Linked DNA regions of Homo sapiens: regions 2 and 3 are each linked to region 1. Evidence: fine-mapped expression QTL. A gene starts in region 1. Each other region holds a variant in brackets. All regions are shown on one strand. Distances are from middle to middle. Region 1 holds the start of SLFNL1-AS1 (SLFNL1 antisense RNA 1). Region 2 overlaps CTPS1 (CTP synthase 1). Region 3 overlaps SCMH1 (Scm polycomb group protein homolog 1).

What was found.
Region 2: its variant is fine-mapped to the expression of SLFNL1-AS1 in ovary (GTEx, PIP above 0.99).
Region 3: its variant is fine-mapped to the expression of SLFNL1-AS1 in whole blood (TOPMed, PIP above 0.99).

The regions. Positions count from the first base shown.
Region 1 is chr1:41,013,117-41,015,875 of GRCh38, reverse strand. It overlaps SLFNL1-AS1 (SLFNL1 antisense RNA 1), which reads right to left and starts at 1,286. Exons shown (of 4, transcript NR_037868.1): 1 at 1-1,286. SLFNL1 (schlafen like 1) reads left to right here. Exons shown (of 6, transcript NM_144990.4): 6 at 1-279.
Region 2 is chr1:40,986,439-40,989,197 of GRCh38, reverse strand. It overlaps CTPS1 (CTP synthase 1), which reads right to left. Exons shown (of 19, transcript NM_001905.4): 4 at 1,726-1,826; 5 at 488-604. Among named protein-coding and RNA genes, the nearest start is that of CTPS1, 8.1 kb to the right of the region's middle. The variant C/A (reference allele first, on the strand shown) is at 1,417.
Region 3 is chr1:41,156,419-41,159,177 of GRCh38, reverse strand. All of the region lies in intron 4 of SCMH1 (Scm polycomb group protein homolog 1), which reads left to right. Among named protein-coding and RNA genes, the nearest start is that of SCMH1, 85 kb to the left of the region's middle. RefSeq lists a silencer at 2,350-2,539. The variant C/G (reference allele first, on the strand shown) is at 1,122.

The DNA.
Region 1 (2,759 bases):
AAAGAATGTGTAAAACCCTGCCCAGAGCTCCCCTAGGGCTAAGCTATAAGGGATTGTCCTTCTCCCTAAAATGCTCATTTGGCCCAGGCTGAGGTCTGTGACTCCAGTTGGCTACACAGTGCCAGAAAGGAATCTGTCATCTCAGGAAAGCCCCTCAAAGATGGCGAGGCATATTTGATGACTGTGGTTACAGGGCAAGAGGCCACCCTGCAGCCCCCACCCCTGACTTGCTGGAACTTGTGACTGTCAAAGCTCCATTAATAAATTACATGCACCTGGGACAAGAATGGTTCTTTCTAGGACACTGGGTCAGCCGGTCAGATGCTGCAGGGTCATGAGTCCCAGGCCCAGCCCACCTCTGTCCAGGAGGCAGAGGACAGACCTGCAAGGGCAGGGAGCCCAGCCCCTCAGACTCCAGTCCAGCTCTGTCTTAAAGACCAGGGACCGTGGGGCAAAGTGCTATGCCTCTGTGCTTCAGTTTCTTCATCTATAAGACAGTGACAATGGCCAGGGGCATTTTGTCACCATCGGGCCAGTGCCCTGTGTCTACGCCAGCTGTGGCACAGAGCAGCACCTCACACTAAGGGTCTCAGTTCCTTTCCAAGACCCCTCTGGTCCAGTAAGACCGTTAGCTTAAAACAAACAAAAAAAACCAGACTCCTCCAGCTGCTTCCTGCCTCTGGCCGTTTCTCCTGCTGTCTCCACCAGCTGAGCCAGAGGCTGCAAAGCCAGAGTCTGATCACACTCACGCCACACCTGCACCCATAGCCCTCCAAATTCTTCAAGAGCAAAGCCCAAACTTGATGGCCTACATGGTTCTCCACCACCTAGCCCACCCAACCTCAATGTCTTCCGCCCCTTATGTAAGCCACTTCAGCCACGCCCACCAACTTGTTTCATTTGCACTCCTGCCTCGGGGCCTCTGCGCTACATAGCGGCCTATTTCCTTTCCTCTTCACCTTCAAGTCCATGCTTAATTTCCCACCCACCCTATTTTAAAGACACCACCTCCCAGCACTGCCACTCCCCTGCTCACTTCCACCCCTGGTCTCCATCTATGAACTACCACACTCTGTAGCTTATATTTGGTGCTTCCCCCACTGAATAACTGCTCTGGGGGACAGGGGTTTGGGTATGGCTGGCATATGGTAGACACCCAATAAATACCTGCTGGTGAGACAATTAAGGATACTCCTAAATTTGGGGTCTGAGCCACCAGAAAATCACCAAACCTTGTTGAACAGGGCATTTCACAGGACTAGTGTTCCACAGAACACACTTCAGTTGATCCCCTAAAACTTGAAGACCCTGGCCACATCCACAGCAGACACAGATGAGAACTTTGGAACCCCCAGCCCCTCCACTCACCAGCCAGGTGACATTTTCTGGGTGATCACAACTGCTCTGAGACCTGGTTTTCCCACTTAGCAAAGAGCACACAACCCCTGCCTCGGCTGCCATTCATGCTGGTTAGGGACCAATGTGATCACAGACACCTATATGGTGGCAGGTTACCAAACTCCTGCTGCTCACCCCCCGAGCTGCCCCAAGGTCACCAAGACTGTTTGAAAACTACACAAATGTGTTACTCAAGAAGGAGGAGTGGCATTTCTGAGCACCTTCCACGGTCCAGGTACCATGCTAAATGCTAGTCCAGGCACCACAATCCTCGGAAATGTTTTTCGGGGGAAAAGAGCAGATTTCTACAAAGGAAGGGTGAAGTCAGGCTTCAGCCCAGCTGCTCCAGACTGCTAAGAACTGCCCAGATCCCCTGGACTGAAGGGAAGTTCCCTGGACTGAAGGAAGTTACTGAAGGGAAGTTACACATAGCTGTGCCTATTGTTAGGTCACATTAAGAAAGGAACGAGGAATGTGACCAGCTTTCCTCCCCATGAGGGAGAAGCCTCCGGGGACGGGTCAGTAAACACTGGGCACAGGTTGCCCTCCTGTAAATCCAGCTTCAGCCCTATCCTGTCTGCCACAGCCAGCGTGGCGGGGCTGCTCGAGCTTTGCAAGCTCTGGAGAGCCATCTGGGATCTCTTTTTTCAGAAACCTTACATTATGTGGCCAGCACTTGACAAGTGATCAGCCAAAGTGATCTTAAACATAGGGGCAGGAACTTAATTACTGGGAGGCTTTTTCACACCACCCACACACCCAGCCATTGTGGGGGACCATGATGTCAACAACGGGCGTGTCAGACCCTCAGTTTGGGGAATGTTTGAAAAAAAACGGGCCAGACGTGGTGGCTCACGCCTGTAATCCCAGCACTTTGGGACGCTGAGATGAGCAGATCACGGCCAGCCTAGCCAACATAGTGAAACCCCATCTCTACTAAAAATACAAAACAATTAGATGGGCGTGGTGGCAGGCACCTGTAATCCCAGCTACTTGGGAAGGTGAGGCAAACAGAATCACTTGAACCTGCGAGGTGGAGGTGGCAGTGAGCCAAGATCACGCCACTGTACTCCAGCCCAGGCAACAGTGTGAGACTCCATCTCAAAAAAAAGACTATTGACCAGGTGCAATGGCTCATGCCTATAATCCCTGCACTATGGGAGGATCGCCTGAGGCCAGGCGTTCAAGACCAGCCTGGCCAACACAGCGAGACCCTGTCTATTAAAAAAAAAAAAAATTTAATTAGCTGGGCGTGGTGATGTGAACCTGTAGTCCCAGCTACTTGGAAGGCTGAGGTGGGAGGATCTTATGAGCCCAGGAGGTCTGCAGCAAGCCGTGCTTGTGCCACTGCACTCCAGCCT
Region 2 (2,759 bases), 27 kb after region 1:
TCTGAAGCAGTAGTTACATGAGGCCCACCCTCATCCCACTCCTGAGCTTTTGGGGTTCTGCAGGGCAAACAGGGCTGCTTCTCTGCTTTCACTGCTGCGGGCTTAAGATCCGGCACTCAAGGTCAGCTTAGTCGGTTCTATGCATCCATCTGCTTTCCGGCTTCCCAATTTTTGTTACTATTGACTCCTCTCCACAAGATTTGTCTTTAAAAACAGCCTCTTTACTCTAGTTCCACCATATAGTAAAGACAAATGCACACGGCCAATCTACATCTGCAAATGCAACTGCCCTGATTTTTCAAATGTTTTCTATTTGATCTTTTCAAAAAAGTATGATTGTAACAAATTTAAACTTACAAAGTTCTTTATTCTCTGCTTCCTGCACCTCAAGTGAAAACTACTAGACAATGAGTGAAAATCATTCCGGTTTACCTTTCCTCCCTCCTCTCCATCTCCCCCAAAGTAAAACTTTCAATGTCTTACTTACCTGGGGAACTAGACTGACGTGGATGTTACAAAAGTTCTCTCTTTTGACCTTGAATTGGAACTGACGGAAGGCCTCAATAAAGGGCATGCTTTCTATGTCCCCCACGGTTCCACCAAGCTAGAAGAACAAAGTTGTTTCAGAGGTTAGGCACTAAACCCTTCTCTGGCAGTTTAGTTTTCTAACAACTGTTCTGTCTTCCTGATTCAGTATCAGTAATTATGTAACACGGACTCTCTAACCCTGTATAATGTTAGTTAACAGTTAACAGGAATTAGACAACTCTTTGTACTAAAAGGTTATTCTTTTGGACAGGCTCATCCTTCCCAAAGGTTATTATGGAACTTTCCACATCATTTCAAGAAAAAGGTCAGATGAGAGAGGTGCCAGGAATGTTATCTCTATCACAGTGACAAAGTAAAAAAAAAAAAAAAAGAAAAACCTAAATCTTATCTCCTTAGTTAACCATAAATAATTTTTGTACTGAAAAAGCATCAGTTGGCTGGGCACGGTGGCTCACATCTGTAATCCTAACACTTTGGGAGGCCAAGGCAGGCAGATGGCTTGAGTTCAGGAGTTAGAGACCATCCTGGGCAAAATGACGAAACCCTGCCTCTCCCAAAAAAGTACAAAAACTAGCCGGGCATGGTGGTGCGCACTGTAGTCCCAGCTACTTGGGAGGCTAAGGTAGGAGAACTGCTTGAGCCCAGGAGGTCAAGGTTGCAGTGAGCCATGACTGCTGCACTGGACTCCAGCCTGGGTGACAGAGTGAGACCCTGTCTCAAAAAAAAAGTATTAGTTATAAACAAACTGCTGGAACTTTTGAGTCTCCTGTTATCTGAGGAACACTGAGATCCAACAGCTAGGATCAGCACAGCAGGAGTACAGATACTGAAACCAAATGAAGCTCATTCGGAGACGAATGCTCTTGC[C/A]AGACGAAAGCAAAAGATCTGCTGACTTGCTCAAGAGACAGATGAAAATGTGTCACACTACTCATGGGGACAATCAGTACTAAGTGATTGTACCATAAATGCTACAAAAAAGGAACACTGGGCAAACTACGGTTTTCCCTTGCGTGGCCATTCCACATGACTGTTAACTGTGCCCTTACCTGCCACATTGCAACATACTGCACCAGAGATAGGAAGGCCAAGGGCTCCACTGGGAACTGTCTTATCAGTTATTGATGGCTGACTAAGGAGATGAGTACACTTGTTCACATGTGCAGGAATCATACAAACCTCAATAACACACACTTGAGGTTCCAGGCCATCTTCATCTACAGGTATTAACGCCTGTCTCATCACCCACTCCTGGATTGCATCTGTGATATGAGGGACAACTGGGAAAAAGAAAACAAACAGGGAACTTACGCTTGTCCATCTACATTGATTGAGACAAATGCACTTACTGTGAAAACAAACTGCAGCACTCTTTGCCTGGAGAGAGTAGCAATAGGGTCATAAAAATACTTTTGAGGCCCCCTTTAACTGGCCTCAACAAATCTCTGAGCTCACACTTCCTGCAGCCAGATGTCTAAGTTGTTGCTGGAAGCCCTGCAACAGAGCAAGGCTGACAGCAGTGTCCTGAGCCACACAGGCGCACGTGCCCCTGTGCAGAGTCTACCCTTTTGGCCACACACCAGTATAGCCAACCCTATTGCTCACAGCTGAAGGTAGGCACATTACACTTCAGTGCACTTCCAGGAACAAGAGACTTCTGGGACCCTGTTCCATATGTTTCCAGTTTACCAAAGGGTAGACAATCCACTGCAGTGAGCCAGCACAGCACAGCAGAGTGGTTAGAAGCACAGCACCCGGGGTCAGAATGTCTGGATTCAAACCTTAGTCTCATGACTCGTTAGCTGTGGATCTTTGGGCCAATTATAGAACCATTTTAAGCTTGTTTTCCCCACCTGTTAAGCTGTGGAAATTTTGTGAGACAGCACCTGTAAAATGCTCGGTAAAGTGCCTGCCATGTCAATGCTCAAAGAATGCCAGCAATTGCTCAACACTTCAAAAATCATAGTTGTTGGGCACAGATGGCAAGTTCCTAAAAGGTGAAGATTACTGTTTAACTCCAGGTTACTCCAGTTACAGCAATGCCTCATGCACAAGGATATTCATTTGCCTCACGCAGAAGAATATTCATTATCTACTCCACACATGGCGTCAAAGTGATCTTTTAAAATTCAAGTCAGAATTCATCACTCCCACACTTCAACTTTTCGGTGGCTTCCCACTCCTCCGAGTACACTCCTAGCTTCTTGCTGCGG
Region 3 (2,759 bases), 140 kb before region 1:
TAGCATAAGGAGCAGCTCCAAATAGCAAACTGAAATAAAATTCAGTAGATCTGTGGAATCTCAAAGTTGGAAAAGACCATAAAATAATCTACCCTTGCCCAGCATTTAAAACTCAACATTTTGAATTTTTTGTAAAATGTCTTATCTTGAACTCCTCAAGTTTTTGAGGACTTAGAACCTCCTCACGTAATTCATTTCATATTTAGACATATTTATTGGTCAAAAATTTGCTCTTTTTGTAATTTCTGTTAGTCATCCCTCTGACTTTCTGGCCATATGAAACAGGGTTAGCCTATTTTTCACTTACTGGCCCTGATTTTTAGAGAGAAGCTCTAGGGACTGCCTTCTCATTGCCACTCTGCCGCTTTCATAGTTGAATCTCACACCTAGATTATTAAAACAGCTTCCTAACTAGTCTTTTTTGCCTCCAGCCCTATCACCCTCCTGCCCATTCTTTACACTACAGCCAGAATGACTTCACCCCAAACGCTTGAAGACTTCCTCTTCTCAGTAATACAGTATATTTGGCTCGCTAATGACTGAACACTGCCTTTATCTGTAACCTTTTTCTAAACTACTTTTTCTGTAAACTCCACCCAGCAGCCATACCAAAAGATCTGCATTTAGAACTGCTTTTTCTCATGTCTGGGCCTTTATAATGCCTTTCTTTCTGTCTGAAACAAACAAAAAGAGTTTCCTTTTTCTTTGACTCCTGCTTATCCTTTTACACTTTAGCTTAGAAGCCTAGAGCTTTCTTTGGTAAGTTTCCACAAGCACTCTGGGTGCTCCTGTAGCACCCTCTGTCTCTCCAGTGTAGCACTTATCACATTATCTTAGTGGTGACTGTTTAGTCTCTGTCCCTCACTAGATTCTCTGTCTGTCACTAGACTGAAGCTCTGTGAGGTTAAGGATGATATTTTGATTACAGTTATATGTCCAGCACTCAGCACAGTGCTTTGACACACACTATAAATATTTGTTGGATGGATGGGGAATGGCTCTGAGACTTCACTTTTTTACTCATGCTAATTGTTCATGTTCCTTCACCTGGTCCTCAGGTGATGTGGTTTTGGGTCTGTTTACCATCACTAGGTAATCATTTAAACTCAGATTTGCTCTCT[C/G]TCAAAGTGTAGTTTTCAGAACTATATCCCAGGTATTATTTTATTAGTCCAAGAAAGAATAGGAATATTACTTGTGTGCTTCTTTTCATTCACTCAGAAACTCATATTGAGCCTCTATTAAATTTCAGGCACTGTGTTAAACAGTAAAGATTTTAAAAATGAATATAAGCCCCCATCCATAAAGAGCTTACATAAATAATTATGGTGATATGATGTGAACAGGATGTTATAGGAGATAGGGAGATGGTAAAATTTGTCCAGCCCTTTTCTGCAAAGCCTTCTGACAGAAAATGTAAAATTTTTGCTGAGCTTTAGTCACTGAGTGTGAGTAACATGGGCAAAGATATGGGACCAAGAAAGCCATGAGTTTTAGGAAACACTAAGGTCCTTTGTAGCTTGAATATTGTGATTCTACATCTGTGAAGCCTCCCAAATCCAGACCTTTCTCATATCAGGATATCTGCCTGGACCTTCGAAAACACCTCTGATTTCTCTGCCTTATCTAAGGCTCTCTTTCTGTTGCCTGAAAGTCTGTGTCTTTTCAGAGGGACCCTGTGGTATAGTGAAAAGAACACTTTCTCTAGATGCTTTATTTCTATTAAGTAAAAATTCTTCTAGTGACTTTTCCTTAATCTACAAAGAACTCCTAGAATCTATGAGAAAACAAAAGAATATCTCAGCAGAAAAATGGCTAAATAAAATACAGACTGGCTGATAAGCCTAAAGAGATCTTTGACTTTATTAGTAATCAAAGAATTGCAAATAAAATTATAATAGTATTTTATTTTTTCACTGATAAGATTTGTCAAAATTATGGAAATTGTTAAAACACAGTTTTAGCAAATATGTGGTAAACACACCTGTGTACTTTCGGTAGGAATAGAAATTGAGTCTGGGCAATATAGTGAGACCTTGTCTCTACTACAAAGAAAAAAATTAGCCAAGCATAGTGGTGCACACCTGTAGTCCCGGCTACTCTGGAGACTGAGCGGGGAGGGTTGCTTGAGTCCAGATCGGGGTTACAGTGAGATATGATTGTGCCACCACACTCCATCCTGGGTATCTGAGTGAGGCTTTGTCTCAAAAAAAAAAAAAAAAAAAAAGTTGGCTTATACTTGTAATCCCAGCACTTTGGGAGTCCGAGGCAGGAAGATGACAAGCCTAGGAGTTTGCAACTAGCCTGGGCACCATAGGGAAACCCTGCCTCTAAGAAGAAAAATCAGTATGTTCTTTCTAGAGGATATTTCAGCAATATATATGTTGTATCAAAATCTAAACTATGCATGCTCTTTGTCCACTAATCCCACCCTTAGGACAAATCCCAAATCTGTGTCTCATGCCTGTAATCCCAGCACTTTGGGAGGCCGAGGCAGTTAGATCACTTGAGCTCAGGAGTTCGAGAACAGCCTGGGCAATTTGGCATAGCCCTGTCTCTACAAAAAATACAAAAATTAGCTAGGAATGGTGGCACACACCTGTAGTCCCAGCTACTAGGGAGGCTGAGATGAGAGGATCGCTTGAGCCCGGGAGGTCAAGGCTGCAATTAGCTGTGTTCACACCACTGTACTCCAGCCTGACACTGACTCAAAGCAAGACCCCGTCTCAAAAAAAATAAAATAAAGACACTTAAATTACCAT